Homo sapiens: one gene and its partners. Each later gene encodes a partner of the first gene's protein in a complex. Each region holds a gene or a part of one and is shown in the gene's direction. Other genes may lie near its edges.

The links.
Region 2: CHTOP (region 1) and THOC3 share a complex: the UniProt entries of both Homo sapiens proteins name them as parts of the transcription/export (TREX) complex.
Region 3: CHTOP (region 1) and THOC7 share a complex: the UniProt entries of both Homo sapiens proteins name them as parts of the transcription/export (TREX) complex.

The regions. Positions count from the first base shown.
Region 1 is NC_000001.11:153,636,752-153,644,463, forward strand, and holds part of CHTOP (chromatin target of PRMT1 protein), read left to right. Parts: intron 1-1,543; coding exon 1,544-1,697; intron 1,698-5,491; coding exon of another isoform or gene 5,492-5,494; coding exon 5,495-5,678; intron 5,679-6,475; coding exon 6,476-6,613; intron 6,614-7,712. UniProt on the Homo sapiens protein: Plays an important role in the ligand-dependent activation of estrogen receptor target genes. May play a role in the silencing of fetal globin genes.
Region 2 is NC_000005.10:175,965,316-175,972,729, reverse strand, and holds the start of THOC3 (THO complex subunit 3), read left to right. Parts: upstream 1-4,414; 5' UTR 4,415-4,521; coding exon 4,522-4,788; intron 4,789-5,462; coding exon 5,463-5,619; intron 5,620-7,414. UniProt on the Homo sapiens protein: Component of the THO subcomplex of the TREX complex which is thought to couple mRNA transcription, processing and nuclear export, and which specifically associates with spliced mRNA and not with unspliced pre-mRNA.
Region 3 is NC_000003.12:63,853,806-63,860,805, reverse strand, and holds part of THOC7 (THO complex subunit 7), read left to right. Parts: exon of another isoform or gene 1-161; intron 162-7,000. UniProt on the Homo sapiens protein: Component of the THO subcomplex of the TREX complex which is thought to couple mRNA transcription, processing and nuclear export, and which specifically associates with spliced mRNA and not with unspliced pre-mRNA.

The DNA.
Region 1 (7,712 bases):
AACAGAAGGCTACAGACCTCTGTTCTTAGTTGCATCTCATGTGGTACACAAAACAAATTGGGCGGTTGTTTCAAAACCCCTTATCAGTAGACTTTTATGTTAAGCTGTCTGAAGTATTTATTTGGTGGGATGTATTTTAAAAGACTCCTAACACTCTTCCTTTTCACATTTTTTTACGTTGATACTGGGGTCGTGCAGCACGGTAGCATGGTACCCTGGCTACAGTAGGCTTGCTGCCCAGTCCAAGGCCAGCAGTGTTGTGTCTGGCCTGTAAGAGGCAGGTAGCAAGCCATGAATATGTCCAAAGGCCCTTGAATGTCATTCTTGGGCCTTGTAAGAGGCACTCGCTTTGCTCCATTTCACTTTCTTTCCATTCTGCTTTTAGTTTGGTTTTGTTTTGGATTCTTCTACAGTTAAGTGTTCTTCTCTTCCATTCCATTATACTTCCTTGACAGAAATAATGAGTCTCTTCACAGGCTCATAAATGATCAAACTGATGTAACTTTGAAAAGTAACTACTTGGAGTCAGAAAAAGTGATGATTGGAGACTAAGAAAAGTAAAGATATTCAAAGGCAGTTTCTATCTCTGACAACTTTGTTCATTAAGAGTGCCTTTGTTTAGGCGCGGTGGCTCATGCCTGTAATCCCAGCACTTTGGCAGGCTGAGGCGGGCGGATCACGAGGTCAGGAGTTTGAGATCAGCCTGCCCAACATGGTGAAACCCTGTCTCTACTAAAAATAGAAAAATTAGCTGGGCGTGGTGGCGTGTGCCTATAATCCCAGCTACTCAGGAGGCTGAGGTAGGAGAATCACTTGAACCCGTGAGGCGAAGGTTGCAGTGAGCCAAGATCCTGCCACTGCACTCCAGCCAGGGCAACAGAGGACAGAGTGAGGCTCCGTTTCAAAAAAAAGAATGCCTTTGATCAGTGATTTCATTAAGTTGACTTTCGACCACTGAAATTTACTTAATGTCTATTTTTGCCTCTTCTGAGGCATATGTGCTTCTCTCCTTATCTCTTTGGCTATGATAAGCTAATTATTTATGTTTGCATAATATTTATGTTTGCATGTTAGTGACATATATTTTAAAATGTGATACACTCCTGTAATTTATGAGAGTATGTTCATTGCTGTGAGCTTTGAAGGTGCTCTAATCCTTCCTCATATTTGGCCTTAGAATGCACCTCGGATCCCCCAAGGTTTAGGCTTTCTTCATTTGTCTTTGAAACTATATCTTCTGTCTCTTGTCATATCTGCTTATTGCGTGTTTTTCATACCTTCCACCTCTCTAAAAGCCGTTACCTGAGCCCTCGTTATCACTTTTGGTTGAATGTGCTGCACTTAGCTGCATTTCTAAGTTTCTGATTCTTGCAAGTTTGTGGAAACAGAGGAGTCTTTAACCCACATCAGCCTTGATCTAAGTGTACCACTTTACTTAAAAGTTCGTGGGATCTGGAGCTCCTGGTCTAGCAAGCCATGAAAATGCCAATAAATGTTTGTAATAAAGCTTTTATTTAAACATCCATTTTGTTCGACCTTGAAGCTTTACTAATATGCTGAAGAACAAACAGCCGACGCCAGTGAATATTCGGGCTTCGATGCAGCAACAACAGCAGCTAGCCAGTGCCAGAAACAGAAGACTGGCCCAGCAGATGGAGAATAGACCCTCTGTCCAGGCAGCATTAAAACTTAAGCAGGTGAGAGAATGGGTCTTAATGCTCCAGAAGCAGCTGGTGATCTCTGTGAGGGAGTCCACTGAGGCTGTCAGGACGTGATGGATGATTGCAAAGTGGCTCAGGGCAAAAAGCTGAAACTTCTCTGGAAGAAAGAGAAGTTCAGAGAATTCCAATTTTGGCAGGTACCAATAAGTAACTTTTTACTGTCTTTCTCTTTTAGGGAGTTTGCCATCTATGTGGCCTGTTTCTGTTACCAATGAGTATTAATCTTTTGTTTTCTGATCCTTAACCCTTAACATAGATTAATGGCTTATTCCACAAAGAAACTTTATTTCAGCTTTAGATAATCTCACAGCATCCTTTACTCTCTGTTAAATGATTTACCCAACAGGGAAATAATTTTATTCTTTTTCCCATAGTGCAGGGAGTTTGCATGGCCTTAGTCAAAGGTTTTCTTTTTTTTTTTTTTTTTAGACGGAGTCTTGCTCTGTCGCCCAGGCTGGAGTGCAGTGGCACGATCTCGGCTCACTGCAAGCTCCGCCTCCCGGGTCCATACCATTCTCCTGCCTCAGCCTCCCGAACAGCTGGGACTAAAGGTGCCCGCCACCACACCCAGCTAATTTTTTTGTATATTTAATAGAGACAGGGTTTCACCATACTAGCCAGGATGGTCTCGATCTCCTGACCTCGTGATCCACCCGCCTCGGCCTCCCAAAGTGCTGGGATTACAGGCTTGAGCCACCGCGCCCAGCAGTCAAAGGTTTTCAATGCTAAAATATACAGAGTAGAGTGACCCTCATTTCCACAGCACCTAAAGTTTTACCAGTAAAGTGGAGCAAGAATACTGAGTAATTTGAGTTAGGGGTTCTCTTTTTCAAATTTACAGTGAGAGATAATCCTATTCAGACCTGAAATAAAACCTGCTCTTTATTATTCATAGAATTTATATGCAAGTCCGGACAGTGGCTGTGGAAGGATATGTCCAAGCTGTGGCTGGGCGTCTGGAGGGCAGTGCCATGCAACTGTAAGGGCTTTGGTAGCATTGCATGGCTATGCATAAATTCAGCAGTTAAATATAACACCCTTACACCCCCACCCTGAACCATTGGGCTCACTGACCAAAAATAAACAAGGGTGTCTGCTTCGGCTACCTTAAGCCTTGGAGTGACTGGATTCCTCCCTGACTCAGGAAAGCAGCAAAAGGCACCATTTTCCAAGAGTAAATGGAAGTTGCTGAAGATGAATCTCTGACAGATCATTCCAAAGGACCTTTCAACAAGAAGCTTTAAGTATAGGCTCTGCAGGAAGTAGTCCCTATCCAGAGTAGTACTATTAAATAGAATTTTTTTATGTTTTTGGTTTGGTTTGGTTTGGTTTGTTTTGAGACGGAGTCTTGCTCTGTCACCCAGGCTGTAGTGCAGTGGTGCAATCTCAACTCACTGCAGCCTCCGCCTCCCGGGTTCAAGCGATTCTCCTGTCTCAGCTACAGGCGCCCGCCACCACACCCGGCTAATTTTTGTATTTTTAGTAGAGACGGAGTTTTGTCATGTTGGCCAGACTGGTCTTGAACTCCTGACCTCAAGTGATCTGCCTGCCTCAGTATCCCAAAGTGTTCAGATTACAGGCATGAGCTACCGTGCCCAGCCAGAACTTTCTACAATGATGGAAATGTTCTGTATTTGCTCTCCGGTACAGTAGCCACTAGTCACATGTGGCTATTGAAAACTTTAAATGTGACTAGTGCAATTAAGGAGCTTAATTTTTTTTAATTTAATTTTAGGCCAGGCCTGTAATCCCAGCACTCTGGGAGGCCAAGGCAGGCGGATCACTTGAGGTCAGGAGTTTGAGACTAGCCTGGCCAATGTGGCAAAACCCCATCTCTACTAAAAAAAAAAAAAAGCCGGGCATGGTGGCGCATACCTGTAATCCCAGCTACTCAAGAGGCTAAGGAGAATCTCTTGAACCCAGGAAGTGGAGGTTGCGGTGAGTGGAGTTGGCACCACTGCATTCCAGCTTGGGTGACAGTGAGACTCTGTCTCAAGAAAATAAGTAAAATTTGCTTTTAATTTAGGCTGGGTATGGTGGCTCACACTTGTAATCCCAGCACTTTGGGAGGCCTGGGCAGGTGGATCACCTGAGGTCAGGAGTTCAAGACCAGCCTGGCCAACATGACAAGACCCCGTCTCCACCAAAAATAAGCCAGGCGTGATGACAGCTCCTGTAATCCCAGCTACTCGGGAGGCTGAGGCAGGAGAATTGTTTGAACCTGGGAGACGAAGGTTGCAGTGAGCCAAGATCGTGTCACTGCACTTCAGCCTGGGCAACAGAGCGAGACTGTATCTCAAAATAAAAATAATTGAAATAGCCACATGTAGCTATAGAGGCTGCCTTACACAGCACACCTCTAGAAGGGAAACTAAGTGGTATAGTTGACATCCTTAACTTCCCTGTTAATATTAAAGGCCGGTATTGGTGGCACTTAAGGATTGGAATGGGTAAAGAACTTCCCAGCACTGTACAGTTCTTTTAAAGCACAAAGCTTGGGAGAATTAATATATGCAGGATAACTGAACGCAAGAGACTTGTGGAATGCAGTTCTAACCTGATAATTGTGTGTTAATCGGGAGTAACAGGACAGGCCGTTACGGTTGGTTACACCTACTTATGCTAGATGCATAATGTTTGGAGCCTTCCCCACTGATGAGAAGCAATTTATGATCTTGTGCTAGAAAGTTAATAATGCTTCACAGCATCTTTTTGAGAGGTTGATTAGAAAACACACACATACACGTTGGTAGTCACTTGTGGGTGAAGCCTGAAGGGGCTATACAATTTATTTTCTTTCAGATTGACTGATGGCTTTATGGACAGCCAGGCTTACTAGGAGCTTGGTTGTGTTCAGGGCTATTGCTGTCCCTTTTTCCTTTGAAGGAATTTAATTCTCTGAGATGTAGTCTTAATGGTTTTCTTTTGAGAACAGATTCTTAAAAATACCCTATCTCTGTAGTGTGTCCTTGTTCTTATATATGGCCCTGAGTTTTGTGATCACCTGAATAATTCTAACATACGTTTGGCTGGCTGACTGTGGAGATACATTTGAGTTACATGTTTATTTTTAATTTAAGGTCATCATTGTTTTAAAGGAGCTGTTTGCAAGTGCAGGCATGGAATTAGGGATTTTTAAGAAATGTAAGGAAAGGAGATTTGACTTTCTTGTGTTTATTTACATCTTAAGGTAAAAAGTGGACCGTCTGGAAATAGATTCTCAGAGGAAAAATGGAGCACACGGGCCTTTTTGAGAAATCAATCTTGTTCTTAAGTCACAAGAACTCAAGTGAACTTGTAATTTAAGTTTTGCCCAGAGTGTGATGAACTTCCTATGGTGTTTGAGTAAGCCTTTGAAGACAGTGGTAGTCCATGGGCAGGTATGAATCAAGTCATATAATTGTCAACCTGTAGTTCAAAAGCAGTACAATCCAGGATTGAACTATAGAATGTTCTTACGAAAACTTAAGTTTCAACTGGCAGTGTATGACTTCTGTAGCCAAACTAGTGAGGTAATTTGTGGAGATGCCCATTTCATGGGACCACACTTGAGCTTCTTGGAGTTTCTGCTCTGGATCAAAATTCTGCTGCTTGTATAACATGTTCTGAGGCAAAGGCTTGCTTCTGGTTTGGGATCCTTTTGACACCCACAACAGGTTTATCTCCCTTCACACCAGCATCTCACTTGCTTCTTTTTCTCTGCACTTTGAGTTGCCAAATCCTGTTGGATTGCTTTTTTGATCTCAATCCCCTAACACCTTTTCTTCCAGAAGAGCTTAAAGCAGCGCCTGGGTAAGAGTAACATCCAGGCACGGTTAGGCCGACCCATAGGGGCCCTGGCCAGGGGAGCAATCGGAGGACGAGGCCTACCCATAATCCAGAGAGGCTTGCCCAGAGGAGGACTACGTGGGGGACGTGCCACCAGAACCCTACTTAGGGGCGGGATGTCACTCCGAGGTCAGTGCTGTGTACCCTGATAATTGTCGGGCCCTACTCCCTTCCCTTTTCTCTTGGGCTGCTTATGGACACGTTTGTTTAACATCTTTAAGCCTGAATTTGTATTAATATAATAACTTCTGAAATCACATATTTTTAATAGTGCTGCATGTCTTTTATCAATACCATTCCTTTTCTGATAATGTGCAATGGTGAGAGGCTATGACCTGCGTAACAACAGGTAATTCATGTCATCTCCATTCCATTTTAAAACACCCTGCTGTTGCTTGAATCAAAGCACATTCAAGTTCTAGAAACAAGTCAAACATAAGAAATTTATAGGTCTTTTGGCCTATATCTCTTTGTTCCTGGTGCTAGTAAAACACTGATACAGCTGGAAAAAGAGGACAAGTTGACCCACAGCACTTACCTATATATGTTCATTTGGGGCACTATTACTCTGTTCCCTGTATAGTTCTTGTTCCCTAGAAGAATCTGTTGAGATCAGGAACCATAGCATTTATTTTTAAATTTACCATAATGCTAGGCATCTATCTGATTATTCAGTAGATATTTATTAAATGTATGTACTTACTAATTGAATTAACTCCCAACTTCCAAAAATGGATTTGTGGTCAGACTTGTTGAATTGATTGAATAAAGAGTAGCTTAATCTGTTCACAGTATGCAGCTTGCCCCAGCCAACCTAAAAACTAACTGAATTACCTTCATTTAACCCTCACCGCCTTCCTTTGGTTAGAATCTACTTTGTGTCTCTTGGATTTACCTGCATATACATTGTATGCCTCCTCTCTAAGGTCAAAACCTGCTCCGAGGTGGACGAGCCGTAGCTCCCCGAATGGGCTTAAGAAGAGGTGGTGTTCGAGGTCGTGGAGGTCCTGGGAGAGGGGGCCTAGGGCGTGGAGCTATGGGTCGTGGCGGAATCGGTGGTAGAGGTTAGTCAGCTACCAACTTCAGAGAGTAGCTCCCCCTTACTTTCCTCCCTTAAAAACTCAGAGCCACCTTTCTGCACAGCTTCAAGTCATAGGCAGGCTTCTTTGTTTGTCTTGTTTTGTTATTTGAAACTGGCTTATTTTTCAAATTACCATGCTGGTAGTGCAAAAGTCTCATGATTTTTCCAAGAATCAATCAAGTGCATATTATAGAGCCAGATTATATGCCATCTTCCTCCAAGCTCTTGCAAATTTAAATTGTATAGTTGAAAATACCCCCCAAAATGGTCAGTTTAGGGTTTTGCCTTTCTCTGCCCCTGTCCCACCACCATCACCACCACATACCACCCTGTAGCTCCAAATCCTGGTTTGAGTCACATGAGAATATAGAAGAGAGAGAGAGATACAAAGATGAAGTAGAGTTAAGAGGGTGGTGAGACTTGGAGCTGGGCATTGGCTCTGAAACCAAATAAATTCAATGTCACATTTGGTGCCTGTGGAGAACCAGAGATGACTTTTTTTGCTTAAGGTAGAGAGCAAGATGGAATTATTATCAGTTAACTAACTGGCTCTTATTGATAATCTTGCCTTTGAAATTTATTGATGTTTGTCTTGTGACCTCATGACCCAGATTGGGAAAGAGTTTAATGATGTTGCTGCTGTTAATACTAAATCTCATGGGAGCCTTCTGGTTTAGAGCTTAGTGGAAAACTCCCAACACCTGTCCAGAAAAAAAACACTATTGAAGCCCCTGTGTATATTTGCTTTGGTTCTCTTAAAAGGTGTCTTGGGTCTTCCATAACTTATGACCTTGAAGTTGCCAAGGAATAATAACTGTTAGGAAAGAAAAGTTGATAACCAAGGGCTTGTTTTCTTCTCTCCCATTATATGATACTTACTGAGTGAAGTGCAAGCTAGTTTGGGTTTCAGGATGAAATAACATGTTTCCAAATTATCTTGACTTGGATCCTGAGAGACATCACGAGGGTGGGAGAGACTAAAATAGCTTTTCAAAAAGCTGAGTTTGTTTTGTTAACTGAATTCACACTGCTTCTCAGATAACCACAATTGTCAGTTGTCATAAGGTAACTAGAATTAAAGG
Region 2 (7,414 bases), on another chromosome or scaffold:
CTGGCATTACTATTTATGGCCTGATTCTGCCTTGAATGACCCTGAAGTCCCCAAGACTCACATGTGTAAAAAATTTCTTAGTTTGATTTTGATCAGCTCCTAAGAGAGAATTTCTAGGTGAGAGAAGGAACTGTAAAAACGGTCCATCAACTGCATTCTTCAAAAATGTTGATGTCATAATAGGCACAGAAATGCTGGGGAACCTTTATAGATTCAAGGAGACTAAGGACATATAATAACTAAATATAGTATGAGGTTCTAGACTGGAACATGTACTGAAAGAAAAGAAGGGCTATAAAGAACATTTCTGGCTAAATTGACACAAATGAAATACAGACAGTAGATTAAATAAAATTCCATGTTTCTGTTCAATTTACCAACATCGATAACTATACTGGGGGTAGGAAACAGAACATCCTATTTCTTAGGAAATACTGAAATATTTAGGGGTAAAGGGTAAGATGTATGCAACTTACAATGTGATATGTCTTGGATTTGTGTCCCTGAGAAAATTTCCAATTGTAAACCCCAGTGTTGGAGGAGGGGCCTGGTGAGAGGTGACTGGATCATCGGAGCGAATTTCCCCCTTGCTGTTCTCGTTACAGTGACTGAGTTCTTATGACATCTGGCTGTTTAAAAGTATGTGGCACCTCCCTGTCTCTCTGTTTCCTGAGACGTGCCCAGCCATGCTTCCTGTACAGCCTATGGAACCACGAGCCAATTAAACCTCTTTTTTTTTTTTTTTTTTTTTTGAGACAGCTTTTTGCTCTGTAGCCCAGGCTGGAGTGCAGTGGTGCAATCTAGGCTCACTGCAAGCTCCGCCTCCCGGGTTCACGCCATTCTCCTGCCTCAGCCTTCCAAGTAGCTGGGACTACAGGCGCCCGCCACCACGCCTGGCTAATTTTATTATATTTTAAGTAGAGACGAGGTTTCATCATCTTGGCCAGGCTGGTCTTGAACTCCTGACCTCGTGATCCACCCGCCTTGACCTCCCAAAGTGCTGGAATTACAGGTGTGAGCCACCGCGCCTGGCCCAATTAAACCTCTTTTCTTTATAAATTACCCAGTCTCAGGTAGTTCCCTATAGCAATGTGAGAACGGACTAATGCACAATTGCCAAATGTTTAGACAAAAGAGTAGTAACGTAGATATATGTAGAGAAAGCAAATGGAGGCTGGGCACAGTGACTCAGGCCTGTAATCTCAGCACTTTGGGAGGCCAAGGCGGGTGAGGCCAGGAGTTTGAGACCAGCCTGGCCAACATGGAGAAACTCCATTTCTACAAAACATACAAAAAATTAGCGGGTGTGGGGGTGCATGCCTGTAATCCCAGCTACTCAGGTGGCTGAGACATGAGAATCGCTTGAACCTGGGAAGCGGAGGTTGCAGTGAGCCAAGATCGCGCCACTGCACTCCAGCCTGGGTGACAGAGTAAGACTGTGTCTCAAAAAAATAAATAAATAAAAATAAAACTAAAAAAAGAAAAAAAGTGGAACAAAATGCTACAATTTGGTGAATCTGTGTCACAGGAATAGCAGTGCTTTTTAGTATTCTTGCAACTTTTCTGTAAATTTGAATTTTTCCAAATAAAAAGTTTTAAAAAATGGCCCATGACTCTGTTCCCCTCAATTTTATCTCCCCTTTGAGAGACTCTGACTTCAGTCTCAACATTGCCCCCAGATGTGTGCTAGTCCAACTTGAAATGTTATACCAGTTTCTGTCTCAGGCAAGAGCAGTCGGATATACTTATCACAACTGAGTTTCTAACATCCATGTATACAGAATATAGAAAAGGAACACAAGGGGAAATTAAGTAAAAAACATACATTACAGGCCGGGCGCGGTGGCTCATGCCTGTAATCCCAGCACTTTGGGAGGCAGAGACGGGTGGATCACCTGACATCAGGAGTTCGAGACCAGCCTGGCCAGCATAGCGAAACCCCATCTCAACCGAAAATACAAAAAATTAGCCAGGCATGGTGGCGGTGCTTGTAATCCCAGCTACTCGGGAGACTGAGGCAGAAGACTTGGTTGAACCTGGGAGGCGGAAGTTGCAGTGAGCCAAGATCGCACTGCACTCCAGCCTGGGCAATAGGAGCAAAACTTCATCTCAAAAAAAAATTAAAAAATAAAAAATATACATTACATACAAAAATACAAAATGAATGCAGAAATACAAAGAATCACATTTACGTGATTTCAGATACTGAGAATCAGAGTGTAGATTTTAGAGTCAGTAACATCTGAGTTCTAACCTTTGCTCTGTCACATGATAGTCATGTGACCTGGACCAGGACATTTTACCTCTTTCTACTTCAGTTTTTGTATCTTGGCAGGGACTTGTAAATCCTCAGTGTATGCAGCAAAAAAAAAAAAAAAAAAAAAAAAAAAATACAAAATACAGGGAAAATGTAGGAAAAATATCTAAATATATATATATATATGAAGATTCCTGAAAAAGAGGGGTAAGGAAGAAAACTAGACACCAAATAGTTTCCTACTCCAAGATTTTAGAGACTTCAGTGGTATTCTTGGAGTCTGAAAAGCTTTGTAGTTTCCAAGAATTTCTGGTTGCAATGGGGTAGGGAAAAGATTGGGGAAAGATAGGGACCTTATTTCCTACGGTCCTTCTGAGAGCCATATGCTTTATATGTGTACTCATTTAGTACCTAGGACCTTCTGACACTTTCTTATGTTGCTGGTGGAAGTATAAATTATTAAACCTCTTCATAGGTGTTTTGGCAATATATATCCAAATAAAAAAGTGCAGATGTGCACAATGAAGGTTGTATAGGGATATTCACTGCAATATTGTTCTAATATTGTTCTAAAAGCAAATTCATGAAGGGATCAGTTGAATATTATATATTCATATAAAGACTGCCACCATTGAGAAGAATGAGACGTCTGCATTTTCTGACAAGAAATGATTTCCTATACATATTTACCATAGGAAGCAAGTTGTGTAAGGAATGCTACCTTTTTGGCAGTGTGTTGGGAGAGGTTATGCACACACCTATCTACCTTGCCCAGGTGCTTACTTACACTGTCTCTGGAAGGCCACACAAGAAATTTAACTTTTTCAGAAGAGAAGTTTGGGGACACAGGATGGAGGGAAGCTTTTCAATCTATTCCCTTTTATACATTTTACATTTGTTACCAAGTGCACGTGTTGCCTTTTAAAAATTGGGTTTTTAAACACATTTACCACTACTACTCACCACCAAAACCTTCCCCCCTCAGCTCTTCTCCAGGGCCTTGACTGGCGCTGGCAGCTCACCACCCCTTTTTTCTCCAGCAAGAAGCCACTGGTTTAAGGGAGATATGAGAGGTGGGGTGGATACGCAGGTGGACATTTACTTTTCACTCTATATCTTTTATTTTTATATTTACAATCATGTGCATGTAATACTGTTACAGGAAAAGGGTCCCAATCCAGACCCCAGGAGTGGGTTCTTGGATCTCACTCAGGAAAGAATTCAGGGCAAGTCCGCAGTGCAAAGTGAAAGCAAGTTTATTAAGAAAGTAAAGGGAATAAAAGAATGGCCACTCCATAGACAGAGCAGCCCCGAGGGCCGCTGGTTGCGCATTTTTATGGTTTTTCCTGATGATATGCTAAACAAGTGGTGGATTATTCATGCCTCCCTTTTTTAGACCGTATAGGGTAACTTCCTGACATTGCCATGGCATTTACAAACTGTCCTGGCACTGGTGGGAGTGTAGAGGTGAGGATGACCAGAGGTCACTCTCATCGCCATTTTGGTTTTGGTGGGTTTTGGCCGGTTCCTTTACTGCAACCTGTTTTATCATCAAGGTCTTTATGACCTGTATTTTGTGCTGACCTCCTATTTCATCCTGTGATTAGAATGCCTTAACAGTCTGGGAATGCAGCCCAGTAGGTTTAAGCCTCATTTTACCCAGTTCCTATTTAAGATAGAGTTGCTCTGGTTCACACGCCTCTGCCATTACCTTTTAAAAACAAAAAATCCATTTTTATTTAAAAAAAAAAAACAAAACCTCCAGACCCCTTCTTAACACCTCTTCCCTCACTCCACACCCGCTAGCCCTTTTCATGGGACAAGCTCACCAGCTGGTCCTTCTCCAGCAAAAAGACCAGAGCTTTCTGCTCTTAAGGGAGGGGACTAGGGATTACGGAACAACCCCAGAAGAAAGGTGATGAGTTAACTGTTTAGAAGGTTAGTGTTGGTTCTTTTATTCGATTAAACAGGAATACACATATATCTACCAAAGAATAGGTAAGGGAGAAATAAGAACACTAAAAAAACTCGGAATCGTTAAGTGTGAAGCATATTTGGAGTTAAAAGAACCAAATATTACTAAGTAAGCAGACGCGGGCACGCGCTGCATACCGGGATTTGTAGTCCCTTCCGGGGCGGGGTACAGCGCGCCTGCGCAGAGGGGCCGTCGCTCTTCCGGGCGCATGCGTGCGGCAGCGGCGCCAGGACTGACTGCGCCGTGGAGGCTGCTGCAGTGTTGTGAGTTGGAAGCTGGGGAGCTCGGCATGGCGGTCCCCGCTGCAGCCATGGGGCCCTCGGCGTTGGGCCAGAGCGGCCCCGGCTCGATGGCCCCGTGGTGCTCAGTGAGCAGCGGCCCGTCGCGCTACGTGCTTGGGATGCAGGAGCTGTTCCGGGGCCACAGCAAGACGCGCGAGTTCCTGGCGCACAGCGCCAAGGTGCACTCGGTGGCCTGGAGTTGCGACGGGCGTCGCCTAGCCTCGGGGTCCTTCGACAAGACGGCCAGCGTCTTCTTGCTGGAGAAGGACCGGTTGGTGAGCTGCCGGGGCTCGGCTCAGGCTAGGGAGAGGGGCCGTGGTGAAGTGAGGTGCGGTAGTGGGAGAGCGAATGGGGGCGAACGGAGCCGCGGGGGTGAAAGGAGAGTGGGTTTGAGGGAAGGGGAAAGGGGGAGTGTGGAGATGAGGAGGGAGTAGGGAGAAGGTGGAGTGTGGGGGTGACGGGGTCGTGAGGGGTGAGGAGAGGAAGACTGGGGGCGTGTGAAGAGTGTGGAAGTAAGGAGGTTGGCGATGGCGGGTGAAGGTGAGGAGAGGGTGGATGGGACAGGGCTGCGATGGGAGCCTTACTGGTTTGGAGTCGAATCCTGTGCTGATAAGAAGTGGCTAGGGGCTGTGGTGGTGGTGGTGGTGGTGGTGGTGGTACGTTGGTGGTGGTACGTTGGTGGTACGTTGGTGGTAGAGTAAGGGTGGAAAACCAGGAAGGAGGAGAAGGCCAGGGAGGGCACAAAAGTAAGGGCATAGGTGTGGAAGCTGAGAAAAACAGTTCAGAAGGCCTGCGGAGAAGAGAAGGGAGAAAGGGCTTGGAGGAACTGGATTCTGAATTACCCAGATCTTTACTGGTCCCAGCATACTTTGGTTTGAATAAGCTTATAAAGTTACATGCGGAGGCAGTTACATCTATGTGAAGTCACATCTGGATTCTGTTCTTTCAGGTCAAAGAAAACAATTATCGGGGACATGGGGATAGTGTGGACCAGCTTTGTTGGCATCCAAGTAATCCTGACCTATTTGTTACGGCGTCCGGAGATAAAACCATTCGCATCTGGGATGTGAGGACTACAAAATGCATTGCCACTGTGAACACTAAAGGTGACTATTCAGAGAGAGGGCAATAGGAAGATAAGCTGTTTGGATTCATTCAACAACCATTTTCCGAATATCTTTTCTGTGCTTGGCACTCAGCTGTGTATGAGACATCCTGAGCTGAATAAGAGTTTCCAGCTCCAAGGACCTCCCCTGCGGGGAGAAGACATATATATACAAATAACATAGCAAGATATGGTTCATTTTATAATGGAGAGGTCTGCAAGGTGGATACCCAGAATAGAAATGAAAACAAAAGTCTGCCTAGGGGAGCCAGGGAAGGCCTCACCAAATTTGAGCAAACTTTTAGGGTAGCCATAGGAGTTGAGTGGTCAGGGTGCTGTGGGTGGGGAATGGGACATTTCCAGGAGGGAACGGCATGTGCAAAGGCATGGAGAATTTGGAAAATTCTGATGAGTTAGAATGGTTGAAACTTGGATGGTCTTGGTGATCTGGGAGAAAGTTGTGCAGTACATTTATAGGCTCTGTTGTAAGTATTGAGGCCGATATTGTATGGGACTCTGAGTTTTCATTGATCGTAAGATGTTCCATTAGGAAAGAAAGTTGGTAAATAACTGTGATACACCCAAAATTTTGAAATGCTTTCTGATACATTTTAAGATACAGTGTAGATACTAAAATGTGAGAAAATATGCGTTTTAGAATGGAAAAAGTTGGTGAGATTTTTAATTGATGTGTTCAGTGTGGGCCACTGGACTTTGTTGACAAGACTTATCTCTGGAGGCGGAATGGTGTGGTTTTTCCCCAAGTATACAGCTGCTGATCCATGAGTGATTCAGGTGATGCGTGGGTGAACATTAAAAACCAGTTTTGCAAATATCTTAATGTCTACTAGAAGAACTAGCACATAGAATTTATTATTCAGTTGAAGCTAAATTTATTTTATTTTTATTTATTTTATTTTATTTTTATTTTTGAGACAGGGTCTTGCCCTGTTACCCAGGATGGAGTACAGTGGCACAATATTGGCTCCCTGCAGCCTCCACCTGGGCTCAAGCCATCCTCTCACCTCAACCTCCTGAGTAGCTGGGACTACAGGCACATGCCACCATGCCTGGCTAATTTTTTGTAGAGACGGGTTTTGCCATATTGCCCAGGCTGATCTTGAACTCCTGGACTCAAGTGATCTGCCTACCTTGGCCTCCCAAAGTGCTGGAATTACAGGCTTGAGCCTCCACAGCTGGCTGCTAAATTTATTTAAGTAAACTTTTTTGAATCAATTTTAAGAAAAATCTTGAATAAAGAAAAGTATAGTGTTTAATGGATAGGACAAAAATTGTGATGTTGGCATGCGAATGGCTGGAGTTGAGAAATGCTGGTGTAAGAGAAAAGGGGGCTTTGGGGTCAAATCTGGGTTTAAAATCTTGGCTTGGCCGGGCACGGTGGCTCACGCCTGTAATCCCAGCACTTTGGGAGGCCGAGGCGGGCGGATCACGAGGTCAGGAGATCGAGACCATCCTGGCTAACACGGTGAAACCCCGTCTCTACTAAAAATACAAAAAAATTAGCCTGGTGTGGTGGCAGGCGCCTGTAGTCCCAGCTACTCGGGAGGCTGAGGCGAGAGAATGGCGTGAACCCAGGAGGTGGAGCTTGCAGTGAGCCGAGATTGCGCCACTTCATAGCTCTGTGACTTCATAGCTTTGACACTTTGGCTTGTCGTCTTATCTCCTATTTCCTTCATCTATAAAATCTTATAGATTTTATAAATGGAGATAATAAAGTGTATGTTAGAGGAGTATTGTGAAGACCAAATGGGGAAATGTGTAGATGAAAGTTCTGG
Region 3 (7,000 bases), on another chromosome or scaffold:
CTAGAAAACATTTAAGGCAGTTCACTGTAATGAGAAAATATAAAAATTAAACGGATTAGAAAACAAGACAAAAAGAACATTGAGATTAGGAAAAATAAAGGGAAGTCAGAAGTGGGGTGATCCTCAAAATGCAGGAGGATAAAGTCTAGTACATTAATTAACCAAGCTGTAAGTGACCTGTTTCTCCAGTAGGCCATTCTGAGAGGCAGGACCTCGTCTGCTCTGTGATCTAGTGTTCATGAGAGAAGGCAATCTTAGATGCCCAGGAAAAGCACTTTTTTTTTCTGATTTGAACTAGAGGAAAAGTTTATCATTGAGGTCTTTATAAATGAAAGCCAGTGTCATATCCTTAACCTCTTTTCAGCACTGAAGATCATAGAGCTGTTTTGTAGCACATCCCTTGCTAGGTAAAAGAAGGCTAAATCACAATTTAGAAAGACATTCTAAAGCCAGTAGAGGCTGGGTGTGGTAGCTCACACCTGTAATCAATCTTAGCACTTTGGGATGCTAAGGCAGGAGGATCACGTGAGCCCAGGAGTTTGCGACCATCCTAAGCAACACAGCAAGACATGATCTATACTACAGAATTTTTCAAATTAGCCAGGCGTGTGTGGTGGTGTGCACCTGTAGTCTCAGCTACTCATCTCTACTAAAAATTTTCTTAAATTAGCCAGGTGGAGTGGAACACACCTGTAGGTAGTCCCAGCTACTCAGGAGGCTGAGGCAGGAGGATCACTTGAGCCCAGGAGTTTGAGGTTGCAACGAGCCATGATTGCACCACTGCACTCCAGCCTGTCAACAGTGCTAGACCCTGTCTAAAAATAAATAAATAAAATCAATGGACAATGTGGTTTAGGTGGGTAGTGGGTAGCTCTGCTGATCTGGCTTGATTCAAATCAGGGTTTTTTGATTGAATATCTAGACCATAGAGGAAAGACAAACTACAACTTCTTCAGACAATCCTCTATAAACATGGTTTTTGTCAGCTGAGCTTTTGAAAAAATCAAGCTGAAATGAGTGGTATGTGTGATCCGTCAACAAGTATTTATTGCATACCTTCTAGGCACAATGCGAGGTCCTGGCTACTTTGCAGTGAACTAGACAGAGGAGGGCCCTGGCCCCTGCTTTGGGGAAAGAAGCCATAGTGTGCAATCAAATAAGTAAATAAGATAATTTCTGAAAAGGAATGTAATTAAGTTCTGAGAATGAACTTGATGGAATGAGGACAGAGAGTAATGGGGGAGGGCAGTGATACCTGACAGGTTCAACCACATGAAGAGCCCAGGAAAGTATTCCAGATAGAGACAACAACTAGTGCAAAGGCCCGAGGTGAAAACAAGCTCTGCACCCTTTAGAGGAAATAAGGAAAGCCACTGGGCTGGATCTAGGGACAGGACTGCATCCAGGTGGGCCAAGAGGAGTACGATGCAAAAGGAGGTAAAAGGGAGCTCAGGAGGAGCCTTGCAGGCTTTGGAAAGGAGACTGAATTGTCCTTTGTGGGCATTTAGAAATGATAGGAGGATTGTAAGCAGGAGAGTTAGTGATCCAATTCATCTTTTAGATCATTCTGAGTTGCATAAAAAATGGATTCTAGGAAGGCAAGAATGGAAACAGGGAGTCCAATGCAAAATATTCCAGATGAGAGAAATGTGGGCTTGGATTAGAGCGATGTTAGTGTGGAAGATAGAAGTGGATGCTCTTGATATCTCATTCATCCTCCTGGAAAGCTCTTGGAGGAGTACCAGTACCTGTCCATGGAGCTTACATAAGAGCCAATGTCTTTTACAAATTTGATGTGCCTGTATCACTGTCCCTTCATGTAATCCATTCCTCTGGGTCTGCGTATCCAGTTGGACTGGGAGCTCTTGAAGAAGCAGCCCTTTATTTCCTGCACTCAGTTTGAGGAACTGCCCTGCTTTAGAGTAGCTATAGCTACTAGACTGGATATTTTCACCACTACTGTCATGTTATAAGTGAAAAAGTAGAGGTCTTTGGAAGTTAGTGACTTGCAGTCACACAGGTAGTTTGTGACAAAGCCATTTTCTCTCCTTCCCTTGTTGCCAACTCTAGCAGTCTGGCTAGCTGAAAAACAGTGTGGATGTTGTCACTGTTAATTTAAACTATGTTAACTGTATTTTGTATGTGTTAATTTAAAGGATGCTAAATATTGTTAGTACCCTGATAGAAATCATTTCAGAAGCACTTTTTGCACTACAGAGAACATTAGGTGATATATTGATATGCCAGAGCAACAGATGAGAGATGGAGAAAGGGGTTGGGGTGGAATGTGGCTCTACATTCTATTTAATAAAGCTTGCTGGTTTTGACGGTAGCTTTTTTTTTTAACTTAGAAAAATGTAATGCATGAATATGTACTTGTTGCAATGTGAAATAATGGTTTTTAATATGCCTACGAATAATATGACAGAATAATGGAGCTGCATTATGACTTTCTAATAATGTAATTGTATATATTTTTCTGTGAATGCAGAGGTGAGTAGTAACTCATCTGTGAAAGGAAGATAATAGTACACACTTTGTAGAGTTGTTTCAAGGATGAAACATGATAATATATGTAAAGCACTTTGAAGTTGAGTGACCATTTAATTTATTGTGTAAACCAGGACACTTTTCAGAGTGAAAAGAAACAAATGGGTTGTGTGGTCACCAACTAGGGTGGTATAAATGCTGTGCAAGTGTTTGCTGCTGCTGTTATTCCTATTTCAATTGCTGATCCAATGTTAATTAGACATTTGTGGGCACAGGGTTCTTTTGTTTTTGGGTTTTTTTTTCATTAGTGCCATTGCATTTGCCCACTTTCTTCCATCTTCTGTGGCCCCAACACAGGGATAACTGCTGCAGTTCAACTATGAAATGATGTTTCTTTAGCCAAGATAATTGGTTTTTCAAAGCAAGATGGACATTTCACCTTGACTTTATTAGCACTATACTACTCTAAACATTTAAATAGAGAGAAAAGACAAAGGACCTCAACATGATGTTTTGCATTTATTTTCCTTTTAAAATTTTAAATTTAATTTTGGTGCACGTAATTTACCTTGGCATCAGCAATTTATGTAGACCAGTCAGAAGTATCTTAGGAGAGGTTAATATCTACATGGAGGAATCAAACCATCTTATTGTTCCTTCCACCCACCTTTTATGTGTCTCCTTAATATTGTTGACCTTAAAAATTGTTTTAATGGCTTTGAGCTTTTTGAAAGGAGGGACCAGGTGTTATTTTACCATAAGGAATGTAACACAATGGGCTAATATGTGTGATTCATCTTAATAACATGAGCTGTGGTGGTCTAACGATAAATCTTACAGGAATCTGCATGAACATTTTTTTTACATGGCCTTAGTCTCTCTTCTTGTTCATTTAAAGTAGGTCAAATCAAGCCAGTTTTCTTTGTTGTTGTTAACATATCATAGCTTTATTCAGTAACGGAGTAGAATTTTTAATACAGAGAAAATGAAGTACCTGAGAATGATAAATAAGTTTACCACCCAGTTAACCACTGTTACTACTTCATAAAAAAAGTACTACATGTCAGTAAATTCAAGAAGAAATGCACAATATGAAAAATGAAAACCTTCCCCTCTTTACCTTCCGTAATAATTCCTCTCCCAGAATGATTTTTAATGCCTCTAAAAGGTAAAAGTATCTTCTCTGGAGCCTGACTCCTGAGTTTGAGTTCCATTTCTATTCCTTACTTCCTGTGACATTTAATTTTTGGCAAGATGCTTTTTCATTGGTAAAATAGGGATAAGAATATCTATAATGAGGCCGGGCAAGGTGGCTCACGCCTGTAATCCCAGCACTTGGGGAGGCCGAGGCGGGTAGGTCACGAGGTCAGGCGTTCAAGACCATCCTGGCTAACACGGTGAAACCCCGTCTCTACTAAAAATACAAAAGAATTAGCTGGGCGTGGTAGCGGGCGCCTGTAGTCCCAGCTACTTGGGAGGCTGAGGCAGTAGAGTGGCATGAACCTGGGAGGCGGAGCTTGCAGTGAGCCGAGATAGCGCCACGCACTCCAGCCTGGGCAACAGTGCAAGACTCTGTCTAAAAAAAAAAAAAATCTATAATGCTGTTGTGTAGATTAAGTGTGTTTATATGTGAAAAGCATCTAAAGCAGTCCTTAGCATATTTAAGTGTTACGTATCTGCTGGCTAGTATACCAGTGGGTATATATGCTTGAAAATTTTATACAGTCATTTACACACTGGTCTGTATTCAACTTCTGTGTACCCATAAAATTTTTTTTAAGTGATATAGTAGGTGCGTATATTTATGGGGTACATGAGATATTTTGATACATGCATACAATGCAAAATAATCACAGCAGGGTAGATAGGATATCCATTGTCTTCAAGCATTTATCATTTGTTATAAACATTCTAGTTATGCTCTTTTAGTTGGTATAAAATGTGCAATAAATTATTGTTGACTATAATCATCCTATTGTGCTATCAAATACTAGATCCTATTCACTCTATGTTTTTGTACTAATTAAGCATCCCCGCCCCTCCCCTGCCACCACACACCCCACAGCTCTTCCCAGCCTCTCGTAACCATCTCTATTTTCTACCTCCATGAGTTCAGTTGTTTCAATTTTTAGCTTATCATGGAGCTCTTTTGAATATAAATCTACCTTATTCTTTTATATCAGTGTGTATAGTCTATTAATTTTTTAGACAGATCCTCTATTGGCATTTAGTTTGTTTTCAGTTTTTTACTCTTCCAAACAGTGTTACAATGGAGATATTTGCATAGATATATTCGCGTACTTGTGGGAATAATTTCTAAAAGATAAGTCAAAAGGTATATGTGTCTTTAATTTTGGTATATCTTGCTGTAATGCCTTAGTAGCTAGCTGTTTTCCCCACTATAATCCTGTCTGAAATTGTTATCCCTTCCTGTGGCTTTCAGTTTGGTACCTACCAAATTTTTTGCCAAACTGCATTTAGAAAGGAAATGCTAATCCTCACTGGTAGATCACAGGATTACTAGTTCACAAAGGCAGGTGAGATTGCAGCCTTCCCTCAAAGGGAACCACATTTGACCTGCAATTTAGCCTTAGCAAGGAGTTACATAACAATGATGCTATTGCCTCTGGTTGTCAAGCCTTGACCTGTCTCTGAAGTTGTTTTGTAATCAAGGTTTTAATGGCAAATATAGGGAAAGAACAATTATGAATTTTGAAAACGTTAGTCTGGGTTTATGAGAAACTCCCTTTTATGCTAAAATGAGAGCACAGCTAAAATGGCTGTGTCATCTGACCAGAGGCCTAGAAATCTAGAGTTGCTCTAGTAACTGTAAAGGAGTCATTTCTTCCTGCCTCTATGTTTATGAAACATAGAGTTTTAAGATCTAAGGACTTTTTGAGGCTTATTTGGTGTCTTGAATAATTTTATATTTCTTCTGGCTATATGTTGGCATATATGTATCCCATTTTGCAAGTAAATATTTACATTTCAGCATAAATGTGTCATTACTGATTTTAAACTGATTTTGAAAGATATTTTGTATGTGCAATTATGGTATAACGAAATCCAGTAGGAAGTCATAAGTTCTAGAATTGTGATAATAGTCTACTGTTAAACCAATCCTGTTTTTTTATGTTTTCAGTGGTTAACATTTAGGCATATTGGATATGAGGCATTTTGATGAGCAAATATGTATCTCATGCCCCTGCCTCATAGACAGTATACTCTAGACAATGTGTGGTCATATTACTCACTAATTAATACGTGAAGTTAATTGCTGCCTCCTTTTCTTTCTTTTTTTTTTTTTTGAGACGGAGTCTCGCTCTGTCGCCCAGGCTGGAGTGCAGTGGCGGGATCTCGGCTCACTGCAAGCTCCGCCTCCCGGGTTCACGCCATTCTCCTGCCTCAGCCTCCCAAGTAGCTGGGACTACAGGCGCCCGCCACTACGCCCGGCTAATTTTTTGTATTTTTAGTAGAGACGGGGTTTCAGCGTTTTAGCCGGGATGGTCTCGATCTCCTGACCTCGTGATCCGCCCGCCTCGGCCTCACAAAGTGCTGGGATTACAGGCGTGAGCCACCGCGCCCGGCCCTCCTTTTCTTGACTCAGATTCACACTCCACAGTCTTTCCAGGAGCTAGATGGATGGTATTATCCAGCCATTGTCCTACAAGCCTAAAGCCAGGTGGAAAACCACCATCCTCACAGCAGGTGTCAAGTATTTTGGTTTAGAAACTCTTTCCAGATGATGTTCATCCTCATAGTAAAGAAAGTAATTATGACAAGGAGTGATGTTGATAACATAAAAAAAATAACAAAAAATCTGCTAAGCCATCTTTACTGTTTTTACAGGATAGACCAAAGCCCAGCAGAATTACTAATATAAGCATTCAAACTGCTTACAGAGGGTTTCAAGCATGATAATTTGTGAAGTCAACATGTATAGTAAACAAAACATATTTTAAGTGTGTTCATTATGGAGCTAATTGATAAGATGTCATTAAAAATAATAATGCTCATGGCATTTGTGTTAGGAACTATCAGCAGCAGTCCATCTTTAAATTTAAAAAGAACAGAGGCTATTCTCAAACTGAGAGCTTACCTTTTTGTTTTATTCTGTTTCTGTTGGAGCTGTGCTCTGTACTTTATACATGTTATTTCAATAATTCTTGTCCACAGAGTTTTCTAGGCAGCAACTCTCTGTGCACAATTTCAGCTAGAAACGCCATGACCTTCCCAGTAAATTTGAGACAGAAGCAAATTTGTAAGGAATCCTAACTGGGCAAAACTTGATATGCATAAATGCCTAATATGTATCTACATAGATATATCTATAGATAAATCTTCAACATTTACTCTGACTTTTATAGGATGATACAAGTTGTGGATTAAATTTTTTTTTTTTTTTTTTGAGACGGAGTCTCGCTTTGTCACCCAGCCTGGAGTGCAGTGGCGCGACCTTGGCTCACTGCAAGCTCCACCTCCCGGGTTCACGCCATTCTCCTGCCTCAGC